3 separate regions of the Homo sapiens genome follow, and regions 1 and 3 are each linked to region 2. Evidence: fine-mapped expression QTL. A gene starts in region 2. Each other region holds a variant in brackets. All regions are shown on one strand. Distances are between the middles of the regions. Region 1 overlaps NUSAP1 (nucleolar and spindle associated protein 1). Region 2 holds the start of RTF1 (RTF1 homolog, Paf1/RNA polymerase II complex component). Region 3 holds the start of LOC105370943 (a long non-coding RNA gene).

Region 1 (10,283 bases), 37 kb after region 2:
GGACTTTTTTTTTTTTTTTTTTTTAGACAGAGTCTCGCTTTATCACCCAGGCTTGAGTGCAGTGGCACGATCTCGGCTCACTGCAAGCTCCACCTCCTGGGTTCACACCATTCTCCTACCTCAGCCTACCGAGTAGCTGGGACTACAGGTGCCCACCACCACACCCAGCTAATTTTGTTTTTGCATTTTTAGTAGAGATGGGGTTTCACCGTGTTAGCCAGGATGGTCTCCATCTCCTGACCTCATGATCCACCTGCCTTGGCCTCCCAAAGTGCTGGGATTACAGGCGTGAGCCACCGTGCCCACTCTTTTTTTTTTTTTTTTTTTAAGAAATAGGATCTTGCTCTGTTGCTCAGGTTGAAGTACAGGGGCTATTCACAGGAGTGCTTATAATGCACCACAGCCTTTGATCTCCTGGGCTAAAGTGATCGTCTGACTTCAGCCTCTCAAGTATCTGAGACTACGGTAGTATATGCTACTGTGCTCAGCCCTATGACCAATTTTAAGTTAACTTTTGTGTATGGTATAAAGGTCCAAATTCATTTTTTGCATCTGAGTATCCAGTTGTCTCTTTTTTTTATTAGTCATTGCTAGTATATGGAAATATGGGGGCCAGGCTCAGTGGTTCACACTTATAATCCCAGCACTTTGGGAGGCTGAGGTAGGAGGATCCCTTGCCCAGGAGTTTGAGACCAGCCTGGGCAACATAGTGAGACCCTGTCTCTAAAACTAAAATAAAATAAATTAGCCAGGTGTGGTAGCACACACCTGTAGACTTAGCTACTTGGGAGGCTGAGATGGGAGGATCCCTTGCCCAGGAGTCTGAGACCAGCCTGGGCAACATAGTGAGACCCTGTCTCTAAAACTAAAATAAAATAAATTAGCCAGGTGTGGTAGCACACACCTGTAGACTTAGCTACTTGGGAGGCTGCAGTAGGAGGATCCCTTGAGCCCATGAGGTCAAGGTTATAGTGAGCTATAATCTTACCACTGCACACCAGCCTGGGTGACAGACCAACACCGTGTCTCTCTAAAAAAAAACACAATAATTAGGCCACGGGCGGTGGCTCACCGCTGTGATCCCCAGCACTTTGGGAGGCTGAGGCTGGCGCATCACGAGGTCAAGAGATAGAGAGTATCGCTTGAACTCGAGGAGAGGTGGAGGTTGCAGTGAGCCAAGATCGCACCACTGTACTCCAGCCTGGGTGACAGAGACAGACTCTGCCTCAAAAAAAAAAAAAAAAAAAAAAAAAAAGCCAAAAATATAATTGTTGGGTCTTGATCTTTTTTTTTTTTTTTTTTTTAATTTATTTTTTTATTGATAATTCTTGGGTGTTTCTCACAGAGGGGGATTTGGCAGGGTCATGGGACAATAGTGGAGGGAAGGTCAGCAGATAAACAAGTGAACAAAGGTCTCTGGTTTTCCTAGGCAGAGGACCCTGCGGCCTTCCGCAGTGTTTGTGTCCCTGATTACTTGAGATTAGGGAGTGGTGATGACTCTTAACGAGCATGCTGCCTTCAAGCATCTGTTTAACAAAGCACATCTTGCACCGCCCTTAATCCATTTAACCCTGAGTGGACACAGCACATGTTTCAGAGAGCACAGGGTTGGGGGTAAGGTCACAGATCAACAGGATCCCAAGGCAGAGGAATTTTTCTTAGTGCAGAACAAAATGAAAAGTCTCCCATGTCTACTTCTTTCTACACAGACACGGCAACCATCCGATTTCTCAATCTTTTCCCCACCTTTCCCGCCTTTCTATTCCACAAAGCCGCCATTGTCATCCTGGCCCGTTCTCAATGAGCTGTTGGGCACACCTCCCAGACGGGGTGGTGGCCGGGCAGAGGGGCTCCTCACTTCCCAGTAGGCGCGGCCGGGCAGAGGCGCCCCTCACCTCCCGGACGGGGCGGCTGGCCGGGCAGGGGGGCTGACCCCCCCCACCTCCCTCCCGGACGGGGCGGCTGGCCGGGCGGGGGGCTGACACCCCCACCTCCCTCCCGGACGGGGCGGCTGGCCGGGCAGAGGGGCTCCTCACTTCCCAGTAGGGGCAGCCGGGCAGAGGCGCCCCTCACCTCCCGGACGGGGCGGCTGGCCGGGCAGGGGGGCCGACCCCCCCACCTCCCTCCCGGACGGGGCGGCTGGCCGGGCGGGGGGCCGACCCCCCCACCTCCCTCCCGGACGGGGCGGCTGGCCGGGCGGGGGGCCGACCCCCCCACCTCCCTCCCGGACGGGGCGGCTGGCCGGGCAGAGGGGCTCCTCACTTCCCAGTAGGGGCGGCCGGGCAGAGGCGCCCCTCACCTCCCAGACGGGGCGGCTGGCTGGGCGGAGGGCTGACCCCCCCACCTCCCTCCCGGACGGGGCGGCTGGCCGGGCAGAGGGGCTCCTCACTTCCCAGTAGGGGCGGCTGGGCAGAGGCGCCCCTCACCTCCCAGACGGGGCGGCTGGCCGGGCAGAGGGCTGACCCCCCCACCTCCCTCCCGGACGGGGCGGCTGGCCAGGCGGGGGGCTGACCCCCCTACCTCCCTCCCGGACGGGGCGGCTGGCCGGGTGGGGGGGCTGACCCCCCCATCTCCCTCCCCGACGGGGTGGCTGGCCGGGCTGAGGGGCTCCTCACTTCCCAGTAGGGGCGGCCGGGCAGAGGCGCCCCTCACCTCCCGGACGGGGCGGCTGGCCGGGCGGGGGGCTGACCCCCCCACCTCCCTCCCGGACGGCACGGCTGGCCAGGCGGGGGGCTGACCCCCCCACCTCCCTCCCGGATGGCACGGCTGGCCGGGCGGGGGGGCTGACCCCCCACCTCCCTCCCGGATGGGGCGGCTGGCCGGGCGGGGGGCTGACCCCCCCCACCTCCCTCCCGGACGGGGTGGCTGCCGGGCGGAGACGCTCCTCACTTCCCAGATGGGGTGGCTGCCGGGCGGAGAGGCTCCTCACTTCTCAGACGGGGCAGCTGCCGGGCGGAGGGGCTCCTCACTTCTCAGACGGGGTGGTTGCCAGGCAGAGGGTCTCCTCACTTCTCAGACGGGGCGGCCGGGCAGAGACGCTCCTCACCTCCCAGACGGGGTCTCGGCCGGGCAGAGGCGCTCCTCACATCCCAGATGGGGCGGCGGGGCAGAGGCGCTCCCCACATCTCAGACGATGGGCGGCCGGGCAGAGACGCTCCCCACTCCTAGATGTGATGGCGGCTGGGAAGAGGCGCTCCTCACTTCCTAGATGGGATGGCGGCCGGGCGGAGACGCTCCTCACTTTCCAGACTGGGCAGCCAGGCAGAGGGGCTCCTCACATCCCAGACGATGGGCGGCCAGGCAGAGACACTCCTCACTTCCCAGACGGGGTGGCAGCCGGGCAGAGGCTGCAATCTCGGCACTTTGGGAGGCCAAGGCAGGCGGCTGCTCCTTGCCCTCGGGCCCCGCGGGGCCCGTCCGCTCCTCCAGCCGCTGCCTCCCGGGCGGCGCTCGCCGGCGCGGCGGCCTTGATCTTTTTTTTTTTCCAAGACGGAGTCTCACTCTGTTGCCCTGGCTGGAGTGCAGTGGCATGATCTTGGCTCATTGCAACCTCCGCCTCCCGGGTTGAAGTGATTCTCCTGCCTCAGCCTCCTGAGTAGCTGGGATTACAGGCGCCCGCCTCCATGCCTGGCTAATTTTTGTATTTTTAGTAGAGATGTGGTTTTACCACGTTGGCCAGGCTGGTCTCCAACTCCTGACTTCAAGTGATCTGCCTGCCTTGGCCTCCCAAAGTGCTGGGATTACAGGTGTGAGCCACTGTGTCTGGCCATAATTGTTGGGTATTGATCTTGTACGTTGCAACCTTACTGAATTTATTAGTTCTAGGAGCTTTTTAGTGAAATCCTTAGGATTTTCTCTATGTAAGATCCTGGTGGTTTTTTCTTTTTTCAGATAGGGTCTCACTACCTAATGGCATGGCTAGATTACACGGTAGACATACTGTTAACTTTTCAAAGAAACTAGCAAACTGTTTTCCAAAGTGGTTGTGACATTTTACATTTCCATCAGATGTGTATTTGACCCTGAATTTTTAAAATTGATCTGATCTCTTCCCCTTGATAGGAAAATCTGAATGTTTCCAGTACCCGGAAGTGTGCCATGTCCTAAAGCCTCGTATATACAAAACAGCATTTAATAAAACCTGAGAGGTACTCTGGGAATATAAAGGAAGCATACTGCCGTTTCTTTTTTGAATGGAAGCAGTGGTCAGGAAAGGGCATACCAAGGGTATGTATAAACTCTTGTTAAGCCTAGCTGCTCACCTAAATCTTGGAAGACTTATGTTTACAAAGAATGAATCTATGACAATGAGAAAAAATTTTATTTATGACGATCTTGAGCAGTATAAAACTCAGAAGCTCCACTGAGGTGAAGGAAACATGGACATGATACTAAGCAAAGCCTAGTCTTTTCCATAAAATGAATAAGAAGTACATTTGGTGGAGTTTGAGACCAGCCTGGGCAACACAGTGAGACCCTGTCTCTAAAAGCATTAAAGCATTAATCCTCGCATTTCGATAGGGCTATGTAGCTTTTAAGTAAGCAATGTTAGAATGAGTTGTAGAGTTTTATTTTTGTGAATATAGTGAGTGACAGATGGCAATTACATGAGGATATTTGAACGAAGGTACATAAGCCTAAACAATTTCACCTAGGTAAAATATTGATGTCATAACCAAACTATATGGCCCCGTTTCATAAAGGTTACTATATTCTATAGAGAGTGAAGAGGTGGCCTTTCTATCCCAGCTTACCCTATTCTTGTTATTGTTCAAATTCTCCTGAAGCTTGCATAACTAGCTGCCATCAGGTAAATGCTATTGGCTAGCAGAAGACTGCAGTTCTGTTAATATTAGAACCAGCAGGGGGAACTTGGGAACTTGACATTAAAAATCTAGAAACAGAATTTTAGGATGGGTCTCGTTAGAAACCTGAATTGTTAATGGACTTAAGTAAAAACCATCCCAAAGAATTTGAGCTTTAAGGTGATAACGTCTTTTCAGAGATCATAGCACATGAAGAACCCATGGACACTACACAGACTATGAACAGTTAGCAGAAAAAGATCTCGTGACTAAAGTGGGGATGACAGCAAAAAAAAAAAATTTACAAAAGGAAAAAAGTTGAGAATACAGGAATATTTACAAGATGTTAAAAAATTATTAATCTTCAGCCAAAATGAGGCCCCTTCGCATTCCCAAAACCTTTGCTTTCTTCTCCTTTCGTTCTTGCTCGCGTTTCTTCCGTTGCTCTTCCCTGAGAGGGATAGGTCACACATTAAGCTCTAGGGAGGCTCCAAAACAGATACTTTAAAGCAACTATTGTTGGACTAACACCCAAACTTCCAAGCAATGACATCCAGCATACTTGTGTAAAACAGACTCTTAGAGGGCACTGTGCTCTGCCTAGTGTTTCTAACACCTGTTCGTCATTGTTGTGTTAAAGGGTTAGAAACTGGTATTTTCCTTTTGTTAACTCAGCACTCTAAAATCATGCATGGAGGCCGGGGC[G/A]CGATGGCTCATGCCTGAAATCCCAGCACGTTAGGAGGCCAAGGCAGGCAGATCACTTGAGGTCAGGAGTTCGAGACCAGCCTGGCCAAAATGGTGAAACCCCGTCTCTACTAAAAATACAAAAAAGGTAGCCAGGTGTGGTGGTGCATGCCTATAATCACAGCTACTGGGGAGGCTGAGGCAGGAGAATCCCTTGAACCCGGGAGGCGGAGGTTGCAGTGAGCCGAGATCACGCCACTGCACTCCAGACTGGGCGACAGAATGAGACTGTCTCAAAACAAACAAACAAAAATAAATAATAAAATCATGCATGGAATTGGAGTCAGGAGACACCTTGCTGATTGAATCCAACTCTTGTTATTTTACAGTTTGCTTTAGGCCAGATGCAGTGGCTCACACCTATAATCCCAGCATTTTGGGAGGCCAAGGTGGGAGGATCCCTTGTGCCCAGGAGTTCAAGGCCAAAGTAAGCTATGATCATGCCATTGTACTCCAGTCTGGGTGACAAAAAGTAAGACCCTGTCTCTAAGAAAAAAAAAAAAATTTGTTTTAAATGAGAAATGTCTACACCTAGAAATCAAAGTTGACCAGGTGTGGTAGCTCACGCCTGTAATCCCAGCACTTTGGGAGGCCAAGGTGGGTGGATCACCTGAGATCAGCAGTTTGAGACCAGCTTGGCCAAGATGGTAAAACCCCGTCTCTACTAAAAATACAAAAATTAGCTGCACGCGGGGGCGGGAACCTGTAATCCCAGCTACTCGGGAGGCTGAGGCAGCAGTATCACTTGAACCTGGGAGGCAGAGGTTGCAGTGAGCCAAGATCGCACCACCACACTCTAGCCTGGGCATCAGAGCGAGACTCCATCTCAAAAAAAAAAAAAAAAAAAAAAAAAAACCAAGATAAGTTAATATAATCTTGGGCTTTTTCTTTTTTTTTTTTGGTTTGTCTAATCCTCTGAAAGTAGAGCATAATGGCTAACTCAGTAGATCCTGGTTCTAGTTCTATTCCTTTCACTAAACTATGTGATTTTGAGCTTGACCTTTGACTTTGATTTCTTTTTTCTTTTTTGAGACGGAGTTTTGCTCTTGTTGCCCAGGCTGTAGTGCAATGGTGCAATTTCAGCTCGCCACAACCTCCGCCTCCCGGGTTCAAGTGATTCTGCTGCCTCAGCCTCCCGAGTAGCTGGGATTACAGGTATGTGCCACCACGCCCGGCTAATTTTGTATTTTTAGTAGAGATGGGGTTTCTCCATGTCTTCAACTCCTGACATCGTGATCCACCCGCCTTGGCCTCCCAGAGTACTGGGATTACAGGCGTGAGCCACCTTGCCTGGCCAACTTAATAACGGTGAGCAAAGGCCCTGGTGGCAGTCGTGTATAGCCATGAGTCAACTGACAGGTAACCCTGTGTCACGAGGGTCCAAGCAGGGAATCTGGGCCCAACCATGACTTGCTGCAACCCAGGATGAGCTCTGGCTTTAACTTGGTTTTCATGCTGAAGGAAGCCTCTAAGGACCGTCCTGGGTTTTTCCTCTTTATAGGGCCTTGACGCCTTGTAAGCCTGGTTTTCTTAGGAGTGAGGAATTTATGTCTATCTGGATATGTAGGTGCCCTGGGCTGCTGGGCATTGGTATCTGGAGAGATACCCACATGCCCTGTGTTTAGGCAGATGAGTCATGCAAGAGCAGTGCTCTGAATCTGGGTCTTCTTCTGAATCACCTGCAGAGCCTTGGAAACAATGCAGGTGCTTGGGCCTCACCCCAAATCTGCTGATTTGGAGTCCATTACACTGGAACCTAGGCAGATGTACTCAGAAAGTTATATACACGATACCACTTTTTTTTTTTTTTGAGACGGAGTCTCACTCTGTCGCCCAGGCTGGAGTGCAGTGGCGTGATCTCGGCTCACTGTAAGCTCTGCCTCCCAGGTTCCTGCCTCAGTCTCCCGAGTAGCTGGGACTACAGGCGCCCGCCACCACGCCCGGCTAATTTTTTGTATTTTTAGTAGAGATGGGGTTTCAATGCGTTAGCCAGGATGGTCTCGATCTGACCTCGTGATCTGCCCCCCTCGGCCTCCCAAAGTGCTGGGATTACAGGCGTGAGCCACCGTGCCTGGCCCATGATACCACTTTTTTTTTTTTTGAGACGGCGCCTGGCTCTGTCACGCAGGCTAGAGTGCAGTGGCGCGATCTCGGCTCACTGCAAGCTCTGCCTCCTGGGTTCACGCCATTCTCCTGCCTCAGCCTCCCGAGTAGCTGGAACTACAGGCGCCCGCCACCATGCCCAGCTAATTTTTTGTATTTTTAGTAGAGACGGGGTTTCACCGTGTTAGCCAGGATGGTTTCGATCTCCTGACCTCGTGTTCCGCCCACCTCGGCCTCCCAAAGTGCTGGGATTACAGGCGTGAGCCACCGCACACGGCCATAATACCACTTCTAACCTCCTCTTAAAACACCACTATTACTGAGCCCCTATCCCTCAGAGGTGCTGCTTTTGAAATTAAAATAATTATAAAGCTGGATAATTATGTACTTACTTTGTCTGGAGATGGGGTTGTTTGTAAGTTTTCTTGTAGAAGTTAATTCTGTTGACATGTTGATTTAGATAATTATTTTCTTTAGATTGCCCCCATGGTTTTAGCTTTCCTAGTTTAGGACAGAGACAAAGAATTTTAAAAAGATTGTTTGATTTATATTCCCAACTTCATTCTCTTCATCTGTGGGGTTACCTGCTATCAACATTTATACTTTTTTTTTCTTTGAGACAGAATCTCACTCTGTCGCTCAGTTTGGAGTGCAGTGGTGTGATCTGATCTCAGCTCACAGCAACCTCCGCCTCCTGGGCTCAAGTGATCCTCCCAATTTAGACTCATGAGTAGCTGGGACTACATGCACATGCCACCATGCCCGGGTAATTTTTGTATTTTTTAGTAGAGACGGGGTTTCATCATGTTGCCCATGCTGGTCTTGAGCTCCTGTTCTCAAGCAATCTGCCTGCCTTGGCCTCCCAAAGTGCTGGGATTACAGGCATGAGCCACTGTGTCCAACCAATTTGCAATTTTACAAAAAGAACTGGGACCAAATTTCTTGAAGTTTATGTGTTGCTTTTTTTTTTAATTTAAATTTAATTATTATTATTTTTTAAATTTTTTAGACAGAGTCTCGTTCTGTCGCCCAGGCTGGAGTGCAGTGGTGTGGTCTCGGCTCACTGCAAGCTTCACCTCCTGGGTTCACACCATTCTCCCACCTCAGCCTCCCGAGTAGTTGAGACTACAGGCGCCCGCCACCATGCCCAGCTAATTTTGTTTTTGTATTTTTGGTAGAGACGGGGTTTCAATGTGTTAGCCAGGATGGTCTCGATCTCCTGAACTCATGATCCGCCTGCCTTGGCCTCCCAAAGTGCTGGGATTACAGGCGTGAGCCACCGCGCCCAGCCTGTTTTTGAGGCGTGGTCTCACTATGTCACCCAGGCTGGAGTGTAGTGGTGCAATCTCGGCTCACTGCAACCTCTGCCTCCTAGGTTCAAGCGATTGTCCTGCCTCAGCCTCCCAAGTAGCTGGGATTACAGGCGCCGCCACCACGCCAGGCTAATTTTCTTATTTTTTTTCAGAAGAGACGGGGTTTCACCATGTTGGCCAGGCTGATCTCGAACTCCTGACCTCAAGTGATCTGCCCACCTCAGCCTCCCAAAAGTGCTGGGATTACAGGCCAGAGCCACTGCGCCCGGCCGCAGAATTTGTTTATTCTTAAGTTTTTATTTTTTATTTTTATTTTTTAGATGGAGTTTCACTCTTGTTGCCCAGGCTGGAGTGCAGTGGCACGGTCTCGGCTCACTGCAACCTCCACCTAACAGGTTCAAGTGATTCTCCTGTCTCAGCATCCTAAGTATCTGGGATTACAGGTGCCTGCCACCACGCCTGGCTAATTTTTGTATGTTTAGTAGGTGTGAGCCACTGCGTCCCACCAATCTTAAGTATTTTACAGGCCCTGTAGCTCAAAACACTCCCACATACCTTTGTGTGGTTCATAGTTGAGGGGACGAGACAAACTTGCTTTAAGATCAAACACTGGTTTCTTATTGGAGACTGGAGTCTGCGTTGCCTCAGTTGTCAACTTGAATGGGGTAATAACTAAAAACACACCGAAAAAACCCAAGAGCTTAATTAGAAACAAAGACCTGGTAAAGTGTTTATCAAAGTGTTACTTCTCAATCTTAAAAATACACGTTATAGGCTGGGCATGGTGGCCCACACCTGTAATCCCAGCACTTTGGGAGGCCGAGGTGGGCGGATCACGAGGTCAGGAGATCAAGACCATCCTGACCAACATGGTGAAACCCTGTCTCCACAAAAATACAAAAAATTATCTAGAGGTGTGGTGGCTCACACCTGTAATCTCAGCACTTTGAGAGGCCGAGTCGGGTGGATCACCTGAGGTCAGGAGTTCAAGACCAGCCTGACCAACACGGAGAAACCCCATCTCTACTAAAAATACAAAATTAGCCAGGGTGGTGGCACATGCCTGTAATCCCAGCTACTCGGGAGGCTGAGGCAGGAGAATTGCTTGAACCCGGAAGGCGGAGGTTGTGGTGAGCTGAGATTGCGCCATTGCACTCCAGCTTGGGCAACAAGAGCGAAACTTGGTTTAAAAAAAAAAAAAAAAAAAAATTAGCTGGGCGTGGTGGTGCATGCCTGTAGTCCCATGCCGAGTAGGCTGAGGCAGGGGAATTGCTTAAATCCGGGAAGCAGAGGTTGCAGTGAGCCAACATCGTGCCAC
Region 2 (10,283 bases):
ATTCTCTCAAAGACAAATTTAATTATTGCTACTTCAAGTTAGATAAACAGAGAAAAACAGGACATGACAATATAATCTCCATTTTAAATAAGAAACCTATAAAATAAAGCATCCCAGTGTGCACATAGCTCAATTTTTAGTTTTTTAGAAAGGTAGAGTAAAATTTTTATAAATACGGAGTTGTACTGATTTGAATTGAGAACTCTGGTTCCTTTATTATCTTGAATGCTTTTCATTTTATAGGACTTACTGCATAAATATTATTCCATAAAGGGAGATGACATAGAGCCCAGAGGTTTGCCTCAAATTATTATTTCCCAATAGGCACCAACAGCAAGTATCTTGAAATTTAAAAATGTTGAAGAAAGGGTGTGGTCAAAATAAGGACAGAGTCACTATCAGGTCAAATGCTAAAAGAAAAGCTTTCAAACTCTCAAACTAGGTCTTAGTTTTAAAAACTTTCAAAGGTTAAAATAAGGCCAGGTGCTGGATCACCTGAGGCCAGGAGTTAGAGACCAGTCTGGCCAACATAGCGTCTCTACTGAAAATACAAAAAATTAGCCAGGTGTGGTGGCAGGCGCCTGTAATCTCAGCTACCCAGGAGGCTGAGGCAGGAGAATTGCTTGAACCCAGGAGGTGGAAGGTGCAGTGAGTCGAGATCGTGCTATTGTACTCCAGTCTGGGCGATAGAGTGAGACTCCATCTCAAAAATAAATAAATAAACAAACAAACAAATAAATAAATAAGGCCTGGTGTGGCAGCTCACACCTGTAATTCCAGCACTTTGGGAGGCCAAAGCCTGAGAATCACCCAAGCCCAGGAGTTTCAGACTAGCCTAGGCAATGTAGTGGGACCCCCATCTCTACAAATGATTTTAAAAATTAGCTGGGTGTGGTGGTGCACACCTGTAGTCCCAGCTACTTGAGAGGCTGAGGGGGAAGGATCACTGAGCTAGGGAGGTCAACGCTACAGCCGTGAGCTGTAATTGTGCCACTGCACTCCAGCCTGGGTGACAGGAGTGAAACCCTGCCTAAAAAAAAAAAAAAAAAGAACCAGTAGTTTTGCCATCTTAAAACCTCCCTGTCAAGTTCTTTTAGTTATACAAGTGCCTTTTTTTTTTTTTTCTTTGGGACAGGGTCTCACTCTGTTACCTGGGCTGAAGAGAAACGGTGGGACCACAAGTAACTGCAACTTCAACCTCCCAGGCTCAAGCAATCCTCCCACCCCAGACTCCCAAGTAGCTGAGACTAGAGGCACGCCACCATGCCCAGCTAATTTTTAAATTCTTTTTTTTTTTTTTTTAATACAGAGTTTCACTCTTGTTTCCCAGGCTGGAGTGCAATGGCACGATCTCGGCTCACCACAGCCTCCACCTCCTGGGTTCAAGTGATTCTCCTGCCTCAGCCTTCTGAGTAACTGGGATTACAGGCAAGCACCACCATGCCTGGCTAATTTTGTATTTTTAGTAGAGACGAGGTTTCTCCATGTTGGTCAGGCTGGTCTCAAACTCCCAACCTCAGGTGATCCGCCCACCTCGGCCTCCCAAAGTGCTGGGATTACAGGTATGAGCCACTGCACCTGGCCAATTTTTAAAGTCTTTGTACAGATGAGGTCTCACTTTGTTGCCTACGCTGATCTCAAACACCTGGGCTCAAGTGTTCCTCCCACTTTGGCCTCCCAAAGTGCTGAGATTACAGGGCATGAGCCACCATGCCCAGCCTATACATGTACGCTTAATTTGGAAGTACTATGGCAGACACAGGAAGCTATTTCTCTTCTAAATACTTATAGTGTGTTACTAAAAAGATTAACCTGCATATAGGCAGTGATCTTAATCACTAACATAAATCATAATTACTTGAGCTATACCTGTTACAAATGCAGAGTCCAGACCTCTATCCCCTGAGAGTCTGATTCAGTAGGTCTAGGATGGGAACTGCTGCACCCTCTAAGTCCCAACCTACATTTTAAATAAGCAACCCAGGTGGCTTCTGACACAGAGGTCTGCCCCTACCACCAGGAAAAACCAGCCTAGAAGGCCCATATATCTCACCTTCAGTAAGGAATAAATTGGAGGTAAAATTTTTGACATAATGGCTCAGATTCCCATCTGAAAAACCCAGGGACAAAAGGCCTCCTTACGAACTGCATTCCAATCCACACTAGATACTCAGTGATCTGTCATGGTTTGTTCCTTCCACAAGTACCATACGCTAGACAGCAAGTCTAATGTTATACCCCCAGTGAAGACTCAGAACCAGATGGAGCAGCACAAGGTATTTGGGGCAGGAAAGATCCAGAATGCATTAGGATTCCTAAAGACCCCCAAGCAGCACTGACAGTGAACTTGTGCTAAAGGTCTTTCGTGAAAATGTCTAGAGGGCAGAGATCTTCCTCTTTGATTATTCTGAGAGTCTGGCATAGTGCTGAACAGACAAACTGAAGGCATCAATACCCCTGTTAGGATGTGCAGGGAAAGGGAATTTTGATCTAGTTCCCATCTGATAACAAGAATGCAAATAAGAAGCTGAAGGGGAGGAAGTTAAATTTGTTGTTAAAATGTATTAGGTATTACACATTTTATGTTAATTTCCTTTTACAAATAGATATTTAGAATTGGATTTAAAATTGCAATTCCGGCCAAGCACGGTGGCTCATGCCTGTAATCCCAGCACTTTGGGAGGCCGAGGTGGGCATATCACTTGAGGTCAGGAGTTCGAAACCAGCCTGGCCAACATGGAGAAACCCTGTCTCCACTAAAAATACAAAAAATTAGCCAGGTGTGGTGACAGGCACCTGTAGTCCCAGCTACACGGGAGGCTGAAGCAGGAGAATCGCTTGAACCCAGTGGGCGGAGGTTGCAGTGAGTTGAGATTGTGCCACTGAACTCCAGCCCAGGCAACAGAACAAGACTCCGTCTCAAAAATAAATAAATAAATAAAGTGGCAATTCTCTGCAGTTCCCACTTTGAAAAAGCTTTTTGTGGATCAGGTGAAATATCTCTACCACGAAAAGAAGCACTCAACTTATTTTATTCATCAGAATTCTGTGGGAAACTACTAAGGACAATAATTTGCAGTTCAGTTCATTCATCACTTGAACAGATGTCTTGAGAGTGCTTTACCAAGAAATCCCCCCAAATAATCCTTTTAATGTATGTACCAATTTCCTCTAAACTATCCAGTGTACTTTATAAACACGAACTCTAGCACCATGAAAAATGACTGTGAAACATTATCATTTTGCAGTATGAAAAAAATTTAAAACTAACAGATTGAGTTGGTATAGTGGAAACAGTATAGGCTTTGTACTCATGCAGATCTGGGTTCAAATCCCAATGCTACCACTTACTAGTTGTGAGTTATTTAACTTTTTCAACCTCCATTTTCTTTATGTAAAGTAGAGGAAATAATTCCAAATTTACCATAATGTGAAAACTTGAAAATCTAAACAAAACAATTAAAGTGCCTACTCTAGGCACTATATAAATGGTAGCCAATGTTGTTATTGTCTGAAACATTCACATTTGTAGATGAAAAGACAGAAAAAAATAGATTCTACTCCTTCTAATTGCCAGTCTAAAATTATCTACCAATCAAACTTTTACAGTCGAAATTATACTTTTGATATTTTTGTAAACTTCAGGAGCCTTTCAATGAGAACATTTTCAATTCCTACCCCAAAACAAAGTTTCTATTCCTTAGATAGTCTTACACAGGCCCCATTACTTCTCCATCTCCCTACCACCATTTTCAAAGCAGTCTTCTTTCTACAGCACCTCCTCAATCCTTTTCTTCTTAAAAGTCCTCCCCTTGGCGGAGCTTGCAGTGAAGCCAAGATCGCACCACTGCACTCCAGCCTGGGCGACAGTGCGAGACTCCGTCTCAAAAAAAAATAAATAAATAAATAAAAAGTCCTCCCCTTTTATGCCTTAATACTTTCTTTTTCTTTCTTTTCTTTTTTTTTTTTTTTTTGTGATGGAGTTTCGCTCTTGTTGCCCAGGCTCACTGCAACCTCCGCCTCCCGGGTTCAAGAATTCTCCTGCCTCAGCCTCCCGAGTAGCTGGGATTACAGGCATGTGCCACCACGCCCCGCTAATTTTGTATTTTTAGTAGAGATGGGGTTTCTCCATGTTGGTCAGGCTGGTCTCGAACTCCCGACCTCAGATGAGCCTTGGCCTCCCAAAGTGCTGGGACTACAGGCGTGAGCCACCGCGCCCAGCCCCTAATACTTTCAAACTGAGACCTCTGGCTTCATATAAAAGACCCCCAAGAAGCCATTCATAGAAAAACTTTACAATTAGCAAATGCTTGCACTGCCATCAATTTTTACAAACACTTGATCTTTACAATAAACCAATTAGATACACAAGGCTGATGTTACATTTTCATTTTACATTTAAGACCAAAGATATATAGCTAGAAAATAGCATAAGCCCAGCCTAGAATTCAAATTTTCAGACTCCAAGTTCAATACTCTTTCTACTCAAAAGCTACTATCTCTTGCATATTCTTTCTTTACATCATTTGCTCATTAAACAGAAAGGAGACCATCTTTGTATCGCCTGGTATCACTAGAGCACTGCTACAAAGAGCAGATTCCTCCCTACAATGTTTTCTAGAGTATATAAACAGTTCAACCCCAAGACACTGAGGCCAAAAGTTACTTTCAGTGCTTCCTGCAGTCTTCAAGTAAGAAAGAATTCTGGGATGCTGCGTGAAAGGGCCAAGAGGAGGCCTGGGCTATGCACAGTCCCTCCATGTCGCCCTACATAGTTCTCTATTTCTTCCAGTATCTGCCCTCTTTCCTCCACCCAAGAGTGTTTTTTTGGGTCTGACACCTCAACAAGGGCCCTTCTCAAACACAAACGACCCTAGTCGCCAAATAAACTCGTGCCCACAGCTAAGTCATCCTTGGCAAGCATGGCAGAGGCTCCTAGGAACATTTACGAGTGTCCTTCCTCTGTCCACATCCCTTGTCCGAAAAACTTCCATCTTCCAGAGTCCGGATCTTCTTGGCCCTCGCCCCCAACTGCTCGACGCGCACCCTTGCACCTCCTCCAAAACCTCCCAGCCTCCCAGGTTGGCGGGCGATACTTCCTATCTCTCCCAGCCCGGATCTCCTGGACTACAGCCCGCCGCCCCGATCTGGCCCCGGAAGATCGCGGCCCCTTTCGCTACCCCCGAGCCCGAGGCCCAACGGCCCGGTCCCTGCCCCGCCTCCCCGCCCAAGGCGCCAAGTCCTCGGGGCTCCGTCTCCAGGCCCGGGCCGGTCTCCAAGGCCCCGCACACTCCAGGAAGACGGGAAAGGGGCTGTAGTGGTGCCCAGGGCACGGGGCGAGCTGGGCGCTCTGGTAGGAAGGCTCCAGGCCCGGCCGTCTCCGGCTCCCGCGGCCCCGACAGCCCTCTGGCTCCGCCGGCCCGCGCCTCCGCGGCCTGCCCTCACCTGATCCAGGTTCTCGTCGCTGCCGCTGTCCTCTGTGTCCGAGTCGATCACGACGCGGCCTTTCCGCTTCTTTACCATGGTGGTCCCCCGGCTCCCACGCCGGCCGCCGCCCGGACTCCCCTCTTGCCCGCCTGCCAGTGGGACCGCCACTGCCGCCGCCGCCGCCGCTGCTCGACCCACACAAAGGCGACCGCGCATGCGCGCTCCGCTCCGCCCCCCTGGCCCCGCCCCCTGCTCGCCGCACGCCGTTCGCAGGTCGCCGGGTGCCCCGCCCTGCCCCGCCCCCGACGCAGCGTGAGAGGCGGGGCCTTCCCCCGTCGCTGGTTCCCGGCAGAGAGTGGTGGTGGCTTTACCCGCGACTGCCCTGGAGTCCTTGGCTGTATCTCTGCTGCGGAGCCGAAGTTTGGTGGGCTCTCTTCCTATCGGGGGCTGGAGCCGCAAGGATCCAGGTTCTCTCTGAGGGGGCTCACGTGTCTACCTACTTTCAAGCTGTCCAACACTGATGGCGTGTACTTAAGGGGCCGACGGCCTGGAAGACATAAGTCGCCTGGACCACGCGGTGGACACCGGTTGGGGGCTGGAGACTGCCGACCCGGGCTGTGCGAATGACAGCTGAGCTGGGACCTGGAGAATGCATCTGAATTACCCAAAAGGAGAGTAGAGTGTTGCATGCAGAGAACAGCGTAGGCAAAATGGCCCGGCGATAATAAAGTTAGGTTCGGAGAACTGAAGTTAGTTATGGCCAGAGCAGAGATTGTGGGTGGGGATAGGCGACAGACCAGGCTGGAGAAGGACACGGCGACTGCCTCACTCAGATCCTAATAAGTAAGCTGAATTAGGGAGTTTGAACTTGAGTATTGAAAGATTTTAAACTGAAGAACCACATGATTTGATTTGTGTGTGGTTTTGTGTTTTAGTAGAGACGGGGCCTCCCTATATTGCCCAGGCTGGTCTCGAACCCCTGGGCCCAAGGGATCCTCCTGCCTTGGCCTCCCAAAGTGCTGGGATTACAGGCGTGAGCTACCGTGCCCAGCCTGATTTGTGGTGGTGTTTTTTTGTTTGTTTGTTTGTTTGTTCGTTTGTTTTGGAGACGGAGTCGCTCTTGTTGCCCGGCCTGGAGTGCAGTGGCAGCTCACTGCAACTCCGCTTCCCAGGTTCAAGCGATTCTCCTGCCTCAGCCTCCTGAGTAGCTGGGATTACAGGCTCCTGCCACCACGCCCGGCTAATTTTTTTTTTTTTTTTTTTTTTGAGACGGAGTTTCGTTCTTGTCGCCCAGGCTGGAGTGCAATGGCGCGATCTTGGCTCACTGCAACTTCTGCCGCCTGGGTTCAAGCGATTCTCCAGCCTCAACCTCCGGAATAGATGGCATTACAGACGCCCTTCACCACGCCCTGCTAATTTTTGTATTTTCAGTAGAGATGGGGTTTCAGCATGTTGGCCAGGCTGGTCTCAAACTCCTGGCCTCCGGTGATCCGCCCGCCTCAGCCTCCCAAAGTGCTGGGATTATAGGCATGAGCCACTGCACCCAGGCCTGATTTGTGTTTTTCAAAGATTACTCTGACCGCAGTATGGCGAATGGACTAAGGGCAGGGAGATCGCTTGGATTGTTGTTGTCTTCTTGGCAAGAGATGATGGTGTCCTGACCTAAGGACGAAGCTGTGGGAATGGAAAGAAGTGGATGGACTCTGGATAATTTGGAACGTAGAATCCCCAGGATTTGGGATAGGGGTAAGGGAAGGAGTGCTCCCAGATACCTATTGATGTTCAGATTCTAGCTTAGGAAGCTAGTGGCAGGTGAGCCCTTCATCAAAAAAATGAAATACAAGAGGAGAGAAGAAGGTTTTGGGAACTGGTGTGTATAGGAAATAAGTTTTTATACTTAAGTTTGAGGTCAGCTGATAAAAAGGTCAGCTCCAGAAGTTATTTCCTTTAGTGATTAGGAATATAAAGTAGGGGCCGGGCGTGGTGGCTCACACATGTAATCCCAGCACTTTGGGAAGCTGAAGAGGGCCGATCACCTGAGGGCAGGAGTTCAAGACCTGCCTGGCCAACATGGCAAAACCCCATCTCTACTAAAAATACAAAAATTAGGCCGGGCACAGTGGCTCACGCCTGTAATCCCAACTTTGGGAGGCTGAGGCAGGGGGATCACAAGGTCAGGAAATCGAGACCAGCCTGACCAACATGGTAAAACCCTGTCTCTACTAAAAATACAAAAATTAGCCGGGCATAGTGGCGTGTTCCTGTAATCCCAGCTACTTGGGAGGCTGAGGCAGGAGAATCACTTGAACCTGAAGGCGGAGGCTGCAGTGAGACGAAATCGTACCACTGCACTCCAGCCTGGCAACAGACGTGACTCTTTCTCAAAAATAATAATAATAATAATAATAATAATCTGGACCGGGTGCAGTGGCTCTTTCCTGTAACCCCAGCACTTTGGGAGGCTGAGGCAGGTGGATCACGAGGTCAGGAGCTCAAGACCAACTTGGCCAAGACAGTGAAACCCCGTTTCTACTAAAAATACAAAAATTAGTCAGACGTGGTGGTGGGCGCATGTATTCCCAGCTACTTGGGAGGCTGAGGCAGAGAATTGCTTGAACCTGGGAGGTGGAGGTTGCAGTGAGCTGAGATCGCGCCACTGCACTCCAGCCTGGGCAACAATAGCGAGCCTGTTCTCAAAAAAAAAAAAAGGAAAAAAGAAAATAATCGCACCACTGCACTTCAGCCTGGGTGACAAAGTGAGACCCTGTCTCAAAAAAATAAATAAATAAAACAACCTAAATAAAGTCCAACTACCTCTTTACCCTAGAAGAGTTTTCCTAAGATACAGCTCATAGACTTTTCTCCCCCGACATATCCTTGGAACCATGGCCAAGGTGACCCCGAATCACCAGCCCAGCTTCCGTATGTCTAGCCACCCTGAAGCCTGTGGTGCCCTTCTGGAGGACCCTCTTTAAATGTGTTAATACACAGTACTGCTAAAAAGGAAGCCATGACATGGTCAGTGGCCCTTGACTGGAATTAATAAAAGTATGTTCTTTGAGTGAAATCTGTAGATTTTGATCTTTCTGCAAGGGGTCTTCTAATGATTCACGTACTGAAGTTAGTCCGTATTGAGTCTAATCAATGTCTAAATTTAGTGAATAAACGTTGCTTTAAACTCCCTCTTGAGTCAGCTTCCCAGAGAACCCAACCAGTCAAAGTTTCCAATTAGTAAAATGAGGATAATGATAGTGTCTGTCTCTTTGGGTTCTTATAAGGTTTAAGTTTACAAAGCAGGCATGGAGGCACAGGTCTATGGTCCCAGTTACTTGGGAGGCTAAGGTAGGAGGATCGGTTGAGCCCAGGAGGTGGAATCCATCCTTGGCAACTTAGAGAAACCACGTCTCAAAAAAAATAGTAAGTTAGGCCAAGCCGAGTGTGGTGGCTCACGCCTGTAATCCCAGCACTTTGGGAGGCCGAGGCAGGCGGATTACCTGAGGTCAGGAGTTCAAGACCAGCCTGGCCGACATGGTGAAATCCCATCTCTACTAAAAATACAAAAAAAAAAAAATTAGCTGTGCATTGTGGCAGGCGCATGTAATCCCAGCTACCTGGGAGGCTGAGGCAGGAGAATCACTTGAACCCAGGAGGCGGAGTTGGAGTGAGCTGAGATCGCGCCATTGCACTCCAGCCTGGGCAACAAGAGTGAAATTCCATCTCAAAATTTAAAAAAATAATGATAATAATAAGTTAGGCCAGGCGGGGTGGCTCATGCCTGTAATCCTAGCACTTTGGGAGACCAAGGAGGGTGGATCACTTGAGGTCAGGAGTTCGAGACCAGCCTGGCTGATATGGTGAAACCCCGTCTCTACTAAAAATACAAAAATTCGCTGGGCGTGGTGGCACCCACCTGTAGTCCCAGCTACTCGGGAGGCTGAGGCAGGAGAATTGCTTGCACCTGGAAGGCGGAGGTTGCAGTGAGCTGAGATCACATCACTGCACTCCAGCCTGGGCAACAGAGCGAGACCTCATCTCAAAAAAAAAAAAAAAAAAATACTGTCCATTATCTAATCTTGGAATTTTTTTTTTTTTTTTGAAACAGAGTCTTGCACTGTCACCCAGGCTGGAGTGCAGTGGTATGATCATGGCTCACTGCAGCCTTAGACTCCTGGGCTCAAGCAATCCTCCCACCTCAGCCTGCCAAGTAGCTGGGACTAGAGGCATGTGCCAACACACCCTGCTAATTTTTTTATTTTTATTTTTTGTAGGGACAAGATCTCACTATGTTGCCCAAGCTGGTCTCCAATTCCTATCCTCAAGTGATCCTCCTGCCTCAGTTTCTTAAAAGTGTTGAGATTATAGCATGAGCCACCATATCCGGCCCAATCTTACAACTTGGTCCTCTTGATCAGGCACCCTCAGAATCCAGTCGTTTGCTACTCTCCCAGCTCCTGCCACCACCTGCTTGGCTAGTTCTTGCAGCTCTTTTGGCGTATAGTCCTTTTCCTCCTTTATTAGGCCCAATATGTCCCCCACTGGGTTATGTGGTGACTTAACCCTATATAAGTCTAGTGGCCAGGAGAGGGGTAAGAGCAGATTCTGAGGGGAAGGAGAAATCCTTCAGTCCTGCCAGGGACAAGCCTCTGCAGTGTCTAAAAGGAGGAGAGGAGGCTGGATGGAAGATCATTTCTGCAGGTTCAGAGGGTTCGGGAGTACCTGGGATTTCAAATTCTTTAGGGGTATTAACCAGATATCCCCATCCCATTTGTCATGGTCCCATTATTTCTCAACTAGGGCCTGGCCTTTGGCTTAGGCACACTGCCTTGCTTGGGAGTTTAAGCTTATTGGAGCTCCGG
Region 3 (10,283 bases), 510 kb after region 2:
CCAGCTGGGTCAGGGAACTCTGTGGGCACCTCGGGCAGCCACCGGCTAGGTGGGCATCTCTGAGGGGCTCCAATCTGAAATGGAGGGGCCAGTTCTGCTGGCAGAGGTGGAGGGGGCCAGCCAGAAAGTGACTGAAGGGTTACAGGGCCATGGAGCAGGAGTTCTCCGCCCGCCCTGGCCATGCACAAGGATCACCTGAGCAGCTCCTGTGGGCACCCTGATAGAACTGTTCTGAGATGAGGCCTTGGAGGCACTGGTATTTTCCAAAAGCTCCCCAGTGACGCAGTGTGCAGCCAGGGTTGAGGGATACTGCTATCTGGAAGCACAGGGCCTCCTGTTCCTCCTCCTGTCCCTTCGCTGAGGCCCACAGTGCTCAGAGGCCACGCCCACTGGACCCAACAGCCCAGTGTCCCGGCACCCACGACTAGGCAGCTGGGATTGGAGCCCCTCCATCATAAGCCCCCCCAGTGCAAGCTCCTGGAGCCGCTGCCCACTGCCACAGTCTCCTGGTAGAGGTGGAGGGGACCAGAGTCTCTGGGCCTTTGGAGAGGTCCTCCTCTTCTTGACCCCCCTCCCTTAGTGGAAAGTTCCTCAGGGAAGCAGCTGTGGGCAGATAAGGCAAGATGCCCCAGGGGCAGGGGGCGGGGGTTGCCTATGGGGCACCCGTGGCCTCATCCACCACCTCCGAAGGGACCCTACTGTCTCACTCTCCAGGCCCCCAGGCCTGGGGTAGCACCTGGGAGAGCAGGCAGGGGACTGGGAGGGAAAAAAGGTAGACCCGGAGCACCTGAGCCAATGGGGCCTGGCCCCAGGCAGGGACGTGCTCTGGTCCTGAATCATTTCCCGGATATAGCTCAACAGCCCAGACTTCAAGGTTTTGGGGGGAAATCTTTTTTCCAAGTTCCTCGATCTGTCATCCCCTTCCCCCCTGGCCGGATAGGACTGGACCAGAGTCCTCTCTCAGCTCCCCCTCAGCCTCCCAGCTTGGGCCGTCTCCACTGATCTCTCCACTGGACATTGTTTCCCGCCTCAGGAAGTCTCTGATGCCCTGCGCTAGATTTTGTTTTCCTTGTTATCGGGACAACTAATATTTTTTCCTGTGCAGAAAAAAAAAAAAAAAGAGATTTTCCCAAGCAGATTACAGCTGTCAGTGATGGGGGGAGGGGGCTGGAGGTTGAGCCCTTCCCCCTCCCCCACTGCCACCCTCAGAGGGCCGAGCTTTTGAATGAAGGAGGAAGCCCTGGACCCAGATCCAGCCAGGCGAGCTGGAGCCAGGGGCAACTCTGGCCTTGGCAGGAAAGTCAGGCCTCTCTCCTCTACCGTCAGGGACCCTGCTCCTGCGAAGATTGTTATCCACGGGCCCACATGTCCAAGGATAGGGAGAGGGTCCTGGGCTTGCCTTCTCTCTAGTGGGGCAGGAAGGGCAGGCTGCCCCCCAGCTGCAGGAGAGAGGTCCCATGGCCCTTGGGAACTGATTCTTCCCAGGCCAGAATTCTGAACGGTCAAGCAGCCCTGTGGGACCAGGATGGCAGAACATGAGTAAAGACACCTAGGAAGGGTGGGAGCACACGCGAGACCCAGCTCCACTAGATGGTGTGACTTTGGGCAATTCCCCAAACCTCTCTGTGCCGTGGGCGCCCCCTGCCCGCCACCATGGACAAATTGATGCCTGCCTCACCTACCTAAACAGCCATGTGGTGAGGATGTAGACGAGAGAAAGATTCTAATTCAATGTCAGGGGTTCTTATGACTCCGTCAGAAGGGTTAATGCAGGTGTCTCAGTACCTATGTGACACAAGTGGGGCCTCCAAGACGAGCAGACCAGAAAGCAGAGGCCATCACCGGGCAGGTTCTGTTAGAATGACACACTCTGGGCCAGCACGTGCATGCACACATACACATGTGCACACACACACTCTCTCTCACACACACTCTCACACACACACACAGTCACACTCAGTCACACACAGTCACACACTCACAGTCGCACACACACTCACACAGTCACACACACTCACAGTCACACACACACACTCACGCAGTCACACACAGTCGTACACTCACACACAGTCACACTCACACAGTCGCGCACACACACACACAGTCACACACAGTCACACACACACAGTCGCACACACAGTCGCACACTCACAGTCACACACACACGCACACACACTCACACACACACACACAGGCTGGGTGTTCTTCCTCGATAAACTCTCACTTTCTACGTTGGGTGCTGCGGTCCTAGGATGGGACAGGCTGCCTGGGCCTTTGGGGTAGGAACTGGCAGCACAACCACCACAGCAACAGGGCCTTGCCTAAGATGACCAAGTTTCTTTTCAAGTTAACAACAACAAATAGAACGGCTTCAGATGTGGGTTACTCGATTGTGGTTGGCAATGGATTAAGAAAATCATTTGCCCCCTCAGGCCCTGGATCCTCTTGTAGGGTGATGGTCTGCTCCGAGAGGCTCTCCTGCCTTCCTCTATCTACACAGTGGGCTCCACAGTGGCCTATATGGGGCCAGTGAGGCATTTGTTGGGGGGATGGGAGGAAATATGATTTCTATTTTGATTTATTTTTTAATTAAAAAACAATTTGGGAGGCTGAGGCAGGTGGAACACCTGAGTTCAGAAGTTTGAGACCAGCCTGCCCAGCCTGGCCAACATGGTGAAACCCAGTCTCTACTAAAAATACAAAAAATTAGCTGGGTGTGGTGGCGGGCGCCTGTAATCTCAGCTACTCGGGAGGCTGAGGCAGGAGAAACGCTTGAACCTGGGAGGCGGAGGTTGCAGTGAGCTGAGACTGCCCCACTGCACTCCAGCCTGGGCAACAAGAGCAAAATTCCATCTCCAAAAAATATATAAATAAATAAAATATTTAATAATAAATAATGTTTTAAAATAAATAATATTTAATATGTGTTTTGACTGTAGTGTATAATCTATGCATAAATATTCACAATCAAAAAAGTTTGGGAGGCCAGACACAGTGGCTCGCGCCTGTAATCTCAGCAATTTGGGAGGCCAAGGCAGGAGAATCTCTTGAGGCCCCAAGTTCAAGACCAGCCTGGGCAACATAGTGAGACCCCCATCTGTTTAAAAAAAAAAAAAAAGTCTGGAGACCACCATCCTGGAAGATCAGTGAGGGCTTTACATCCTATTGGAAGCCAGTTTCAGGCTGGGTGCTGGGGTAGGGGAAGGGAGTGTGGAGGAGGGGCTGGTGCGCTCCAGGTACAGGACCACGCAGCAGTCTGGATATTCCTGGCCACCACTGGTCCCCACGGCCTCCTTCTCCCTGTTCCCCCTTTAGGCCTGCGTAAGTCTCAGGGGTTCTAGGACCCTAGCTGCCAAGCTCCCTGCAAGGGAGAGAGTGGTCCTGGGTGACCGACACACTCCCCTGCCCCTCAGGCTGGCTGATGTGTGGCTCAGTGAGGCTAGGGTCCTTGTAGCTGCCCTGCATTCCATGTCATCCCCAGGAGAAAAGTCCCTGGCGGGAGGCGGCCCTCTGCCGGGAGGCTGTTTCCTCAAGCAGCCAAGGTAAGAAGTGGGGGATTTCCAGCCCAACCCGTGGGGCTGACTTCAGTACTGGGGGCTCCTCTCCTTTCTCATGCAGCCAGGCTGGGGTGAGCACACAAACGCTGGAGTTAGACCTGGTTGTGGGCAAGAGCATGTGGGGGCAGTGGAGTTAGCTAGGCCTGAAAGCCTGCAGCTGCCACGCCCTGCTCAAGAGAACCCCAGGGCTGTACCTGCAACCAACAGAGACCCAGCCCTGGAAGACCCCAACAGGCATCTCAGGGAGGGGACAGGGGTCTGGAAATCCAGCACCATACTTACTCATGGGCTTGTGGGGAATGACTCAAATTGATGAATGCCCCTGCTTAACCCCAGGTTCTGCCCCAGGGCTGCTGGGCGGGCCTGGTGGTAAGCGAAATGGCAGGTCTAAATCTCATCTCACAAGGCAGCATTAATTAGCCAGCACTTCCAAGGATGCTGGAGAGTCAAGGGAGCCAAGTTGGACCCATCAGGAGCTGGGAGCCAGAAGCCCCACATCCCAGACCATCTTGCCCTGAAAGCTTGGCCCACAGGAAAGGGGAGCTATCCCATACAGCATTCCCTCTATCCCTGCACTGCGCTCCGCTGGGCAGGGAGGGTGGGTGCAATCCTGGAGGCCAAATGGAGGAAGAGGGAGGAAGCCATAGTGCCCTGGTGATGGTGGCACACATGGACGTCCCAGCTCAGGCCTGTGGAAGGGCTTAGGAAACAGACTTTTCCTCTGCTCTTATTGAGTCTCCTGTGCCTCAGATACGCTTGTGAATTTTCATTTCATTACCCAGCTCATATGTTTGCTGAGTACACATGTATGTGCAGGCCTGTGTGATTGAGACATGCCAGGTCAAGGAACAGGCAGGAATTTATGCAAGGTTGCTGAGCAGAAGGAGAGGACCT[G/A]AAAAGTGAAATAATAGTCCAGCCACCACCATTGTAGGCTAGCAATGTGTCAAGACCTGAGCCAGGGGTTTTACATGCATTATTACCAATCTGCCCAGCAGCCAACCCTCTGAGGGAGGTATTATTATCTCCATTTTATAAATCGATAAATTGAATGAAGCTTAGAGAAGTTAAGTGACCAGCCTGAGGTCATGCGGTGAGCAAATCTAGGCCAGGATTTGAACCCGGTCAGTCTAAGGCCAAGCCAGAGATGTCTCCACCCAACTCTCTTGGTGTGGTCCTCCTCCATTACGCCCCATCTGTTCCTTGTCTCTGAGGCCCTGGCTGCCCTGGTCTGAGGTAACAGTTCCCTCCCCTCCTCCTCTCCCCTCCCGGCCAGGCAAGGTGGAAACACAGAGTTTGTTTGAGGCCTTGTGGAGCCCGAGAAGCAGTGAGCAGACCTTCACACCAGTCCAGGCCGGGTTCAAAGAGGGTCTGGCTGGCCCTGGGTGTGGGGGGGATCAGCTAGGGCTGAGCTGGGGCAGCTGTTTACAGTAAACAGAAAGCTCTTGAGGAAGGAAGGAGGGGAGGGGCTGGGGTCGTCATGGAGACAGGGACGAGCAGACAGGCCTCAGCCTTGATCCACAATGACTGGTAACGCATCCTTGCCTTCCAGAGCAGAGGAGGCCCAGGGAAGGTTGGGACAAGTCAGCCGGAGCAGGAGAGGCAGGGGCAGACAGGTCTGGCCCGGGGCAGACTCGCTAAGAACACACTCCCACCTCTTTGTGCCTTTCTACTTATTATTAACAATCACAACGCCTGCTTCTTGAGTTCTCACAGTACGTCTGGTGCGAGGCCCTTGAGAATATGTTTTCTTATTTAATCCCAACAATAGCCAGGTGGTAGGTACGATAATAGTCTCTAATTTATAGATGAGGAAATTGAGGTTCAGAAAGGTTAAGCAATTTGTCAAGGTCAAACAGCTTGTAAGTGACATAGCAGAAATTCCAGATCAAAAACTCTTTCCACCAAGGCGGGTAGGAGATGAGCTAGCTGGTGAAACTCTGAGCCCCTCAGATGGTGGGGAAACTGAGTCCCTTAGGTGTTAAGGGGACTTTCCCAGGCTTCTGGTGTTAGTCAAAGAGATTGCCGGGAACAGAACCCATCTGTTCTAGCCCTAACCACTAGACCACACGGCTTCTCCATGGCTTCAGCTGGGAAGGTCCAAAGAGAAACTCCCTTTCTAGCCCCAGTGTGGAGTGTAGACTCTTCCCCAGCTAACACGGTTATCCCTGCGGAGGCCAGGCTGGGCCAGGGTGCAGTGGGGGATGCTGGGGGGTTTCTGCCCACACATATGGTTTCCAGATTCCAGGGGATGAAAAGGAGGCCCTTAGGGGCGGAAATGGGGGATGTGTGATGACAAATTTAGACTGATTGCTTAAAAAAAAAAAAAGAAGCCAAGAAACCCTATAAAATAAAAGCAGAAATTCCACTAGAAAACCAGAGGGAGTTATTTGATTGTGAAACTGAGTGCCACGAGGCGTGCATAGTTTAATGTGGAACAATATCTAGGGTTCTTCCAACTTTGACTGTTCAGAGGATGCCGGGGAGGGAAGGAGGCTCTGTCTGCTGTTCCTGCTTCACCTGCTGGGGCCTGGGACAGGGAGCTAGTCGGGAAGGACACCTGGGAGGATGTCTGGAGTCGGGGCACTTGCAAGCGTCCTGCCGGCTGTGGCCAAGGATCCACACTGGCTCACATGGAGAGCGGCCCAGTGGAGGCTCCAGCTGGTCCGCACTGAGAGCATGGGGAAGGATGAGCTGGAAGCTGGGGGTTTGGGGTATCTCTGAGTTCCAGCCTTAGAGGGAAAGACCAGGAACAAAAGGTAAAAGAGAGAACATCTGCCTGGTATTCTGGTCGGCAGCAGGCCCAAGGGGTCAAAGGTCAAGGGGAGGACAAGGGGGACTTCCTGAAGCTCCCGGGAGAGTGCCAGCCAGGCCGACTGTTGTGCAAGTTCTGGGCTGGCCTGCGAGGGCAGGCTGGCAGAGGAGTCATGCCTGATCAGCGGCCAGCATGGTGTCTGCCCAGCCCTCTTGGCCTGTCCTATGAGACTCCTGGAGCTGGAGTAGTGCCCTGTCTCCTTTCCTTCAGGGAACCAGGACCCCCATCCCAAGGAAGCACTCTTGTCCCACCTGTGGCCATATTCTACATGCCTGTGGGCTTCCTCTCATTCTCATCCTGAACCTCTTTTCCTTAGAATCGCCATTGTTCAAGAAACCAGAAAAACCTACTCAAGCAAGCTTCTTTCTTCCAATTCCACTCTGATATCTGAAGAAGTCAGAGGGCCTTGTGAGGGATGAGCTGGGACAGGTCTCAGGGTCCTACGCCTACAGAAAGGAGGTGCAGAGTAAAAGGGAAGAGGGGCAAGTGCCCAGGGCTGCTTGGGCGCCAGGCCCTGGGCTACCTTGACAGATGGGCGGCACCGCTCTCATTTCAGCCTCACAAGAGCCTTTCCAGGTCTGTAACAGTTATTCACATTTTACAGGAGAAGAAATTGAGTTTCCAAGGGCTTGATTAGCCTGATGCTGGTAATGGCAGAGCAGAGACTTGCACTTGCTCTTTACAGATTATGTCCTTGTTCCTCGGTTCAACCCATTTTGGCTGGAGATGGAAAATGAGTATAAAGAAGGACCTAGGATGGTGCCCTGCTCACGACCAGCATGGGAACACAGTTAATCAAGGCTGAATCTCACGGACAGGGGCAGGATCCAGGATGGAGCCTCCTGTTAGCTACCAATTTGTCTTCTGCAATTCAGCAGCTGTAAAGTCAGGAGGTGGGATCAGCAGCACAATGTCTTTCAAACTCGGTTCCTGGGCATCCTGGCATCTTATGGATATCGTGATAGGGGGCCGGGCACAGTGGCTCATGCCTGTAATCCGGACACCCTAGGAGGCTGAGGTGGGAGGACTGCTTGAAGTCAGGAGTTCAAGACCAGCCTTGGCAACCTAGCAAGACCCCCGTCACTACAAAAAATAGAAATAAAAATTAGCCAGGTGTGGTGTCTGTAGTCCTTGCTACTCAGGAGCCTGGGGTGGGAGGATCACTTGAGATCAGGAATTAAAGGCTGCAGTGAGCTATGATGGCGCCACTGCACTCCAGCCTAGGCAATAGAACAAGGTGTTGTTTCTATTAAAAAAAAAAAAAAAAAACAGAGAGAGAGACATTGAGATAGGAGTGGAGAACAGGCTGAGTGAACAGGAGTGTGGGTCCCTCCAGCCCAGTTTCCATCGGAGAATCTCAGCATACCAATTTCAAGTACTGGACATTCATGAATGTTTTTATTTGAACAAGGCTTCCACAGCACTTTATAGTCTCTATCTGAGGTCTCTGCAGCTCTGGCCTGCTGGGAGTTGTGAACGGTTTAGGTCCTGGCCTGGGAAGAGAAACCAGAGGACCTGGTAAAGGAAGTAGGGTTCACCTTCTAGCCCTGTGGAGATGCCGCGAGGGAACAGGTCAAGGGTCAGAGCTGGGAGATCATGCCATGGAGGGAAGGTGAGCTGCAGCCACCTGCCTCTGCACCTGGCAAACACAAACAGACCTTTGGCCACAGCAGCCTGGGAACCAGAAGCAGCAGCCACCTTCCGGGGGGCCAGACCAGTGCCCCTTTCCCTTTTCTCTGCCCAAGCTTATTCTCAGTGGACATGGGTTGCTGGCCACCAAACTAAGGCCGCGCAGCCTCTCCTGACCTCACGGTATGGTTTCTGACTGCTCAGTAAGGGCTGGTTCAAGGTGAAAGCTGAGCCACGGTAAAGCTGCTCAGGGAGAGGAAAGCACCCAATTACTGGGCATTCAGAGAGTGGGGCCAATCCCCTTGAAATGACAACCCTATTTTGTGACCCTTTTATTGGCCATCCTGGACCAAAGTTTGCCCCTCTGCCTCAGTTTTCCTTTTGGGAATCCAGGCATGAGAATGGTGGCCCTCTCCTGGTGGCTTCAGCACGTATGGCTCCCTGAATATCATCTCCATGCTCCAGGTGGAGGAGAAAGCTGAGGGCTCCAGCTGCCCAAGCACCAGAACTTTCTAGCATCCTCCTATCCCAGTGCCCGCCCCAGGCCTGCCTCTGACCACCATTCACCCTCAACCTGCTGCAGGGCCCAGCCTCACCCCACATAAGCAAAGCTGCCAGCAGCGTCCTTTGTGGTGCTGCTCCCGTGTGGCACTGCCTAGGGGCCCCACCATGGGGCAACAGATGGACCTATGGTCTCTCCAGAACAATGGTGGGGGAGGGGCCCTGGCATCGCCCGCCCCAAACAGGAAGCGCTGCATGAGCTTCAAAGGGCTGGCAGGGCCAAGGGGCTGAGTGGGGGAGCCAGTGCCAGGACTGGCGGCTGCCTGAAGAGATGCCTGCCAGCCTCGGGATGCCCAGCCTGGTGGTGGAGGTGGGGCTGTGGTGGCCAGGGCAGCTGGCTCTTGAGCAGAAGATGTCTGGCACCCTGAGGACAGCAGCCTGTAACCTGGGAGCAGGTTAAGGAAAGAGGGCATGGAGTTTGCTGTTTCCCGGTTCAACTGCCACTCGCCAGCGGGGCTGCAGGTTCTTTCCCAGGCCGCGGTTGGCCTGGCCCTCCGGCAAGTAAGCATGAGGGGCAGGGCTGGCACCAAGCCCGCCGCCCACTCCCTGCCTCCTGCTCCCAGCTGCTCCGCTCAGAGCCTTTTCCTCTCCACTTCCTGTTCACACAGGGGGGGGCGGGAAGTGGAGGGAGGAAGTTGGGGGGAGGCGTGTAGGGGGGACCCATTGAATAAAAGGAATTAACCGTTTCCCTCCTCTGACCTCTGGGAATTTCCGCCTGTGAAAGTGTCTCGAAGAATCAGTAGGGCTGGGGGAGTGGAGGGGAACTGCGCCCCCTCTTGGTCCCCTTCCCCCACCCGGTGGCGGTGGGGCCAGATAACTCCCTCTGGGCCCCTAACCTTTGTTTCCCTGGCGCCAGGGGGCAGCGCCAAGTGCGGCCTGGAGCCTGATGGCCTCGAGCCCCCTCCCAACCTTTGGGGTGGGTGCCAGGCACCAGCCTGCGACCCGAGCCTTTGGGGGAGGGGCAGGAACTAGAACTGGTGGTCTCGGGGGAATGAGCTCACATCCGAGCTGGCCACGCTGAGCCCTGTGCCCTCTCCAGGGCTGGTGCCCTTGGCCAGTCGGCCGCGGTGACAGGAGAAGGGAGGGAGAGGCCGGGCAGGCAGGGCCTGGGACTCTGGGCCGGCACACCCTCCGGCGGCCACACCCCCAGGAGCCAGGGTAGGGAGCGGTGGGCTCGGGAAGCCGGTAGACGGCGCCCCCTAGTGCCCACTGCAGACTCGGCGGGGCGGCCCCCAGGGCCCTCTCCAGGGCGGGCCTCAGGAAGCACCTGCTCCCCAGGACCAGTGGCCGCCCTGCGTCTCCCCCAGGTGGCTTCCTTGTTTACAGGCCTCCTGCCCTGGTCCCAGCGTCACTGCCTGTGGCCACTCCTTCTATTTCCAGTGACCGCTCCAGGAGTAGCTCATTCATCTTGGCCCCTGCCCACGCAGCTGCTCCCCCACCCCACCCCCCTCTGGCCCTCCAGGCTTAGGGCCAAAGCCCTGAGGGCCTCCGCTCTGCTCTCCATTCCATGTCTTGCTTGGCTTCCAGGGATCTAAGAGCTGTGGCTTCCCGTTGCCCTGACTCACCGGAACCCTATTCTGTCCCTGCCAGGGAAGCCTGGGGCCTTTTCCCAGGAAAGAGGAAGCAGCCTAGGACCAGATGGGCTGGCTTAGGAGAAGACAGAAGGGGCAGGGGTGTCCCAAGCTGCTTTAGCCAAGCCCTCTGGGAGCAGGGAGCAATAGGGC

The links.
Region 1: its variant is fine-mapped to the expression of RTF1 in whole blood (TOPMed, PIP above 0.99).
Region 3: its variant is fine-mapped to the expression of RTF1 in whole blood (INTERVAL, PIP 0.99).

What each region holds. Positions count from the first base shown.
Region 1 is chr15:41,375,066-41,385,348 of GRCh38, reverse strand. It overlaps NUSAP1 (nucleolar and spindle associated protein 1), which reads right to left. Exons shown (of 11, transcript NM_016359.5): 9 at 9,521-9,637; 10 at 8,045-8,153; 11 at 4,303-5,256. The coding sequence ends at 5,163. Among named protein-coding and RNA genes, the nearest start is that of NDUFAF1, 22 kb to the left of the region's middle. RefSeq lists an enhancer at 1,252-1,790. The variant G/A (reference allele first, on the strand shown) is at 5,511.
Region 2 is chr15:41,412,476-41,422,758 of GRCh38, reverse strand. It overlaps RTF1 (RTF1 homolog, Paf1/RNA polymerase II complex component), which reads right to left and starts at 5,664. Exons shown (of 18, transcript NM_015138.5): 1 at 5,446-5,664. The coding sequence starts at 5,643. RefSeq lists a silencer at 5,185-5,774 and an enhancer at 5,835-5,934.
Region 3 is chr15:40,905,998-40,916,280 of GRCh38, reverse strand. It overlaps LOC105370943 (a long non-coding RNA gene), which reads right to left and starts at 9,472. Exons shown (of 2, transcript NR_135836.1): 1 at 9,396-9,472; 2 at 6,930-7,452. RefSeq lists enhancers at 317-984, 8,497-8,626, 9,816-10,110 and silencers at 8,837-8,896, 9,547-9,886, 9,816-10,110. The variant G/A (reference allele first, on the strand shown) is at 4,452.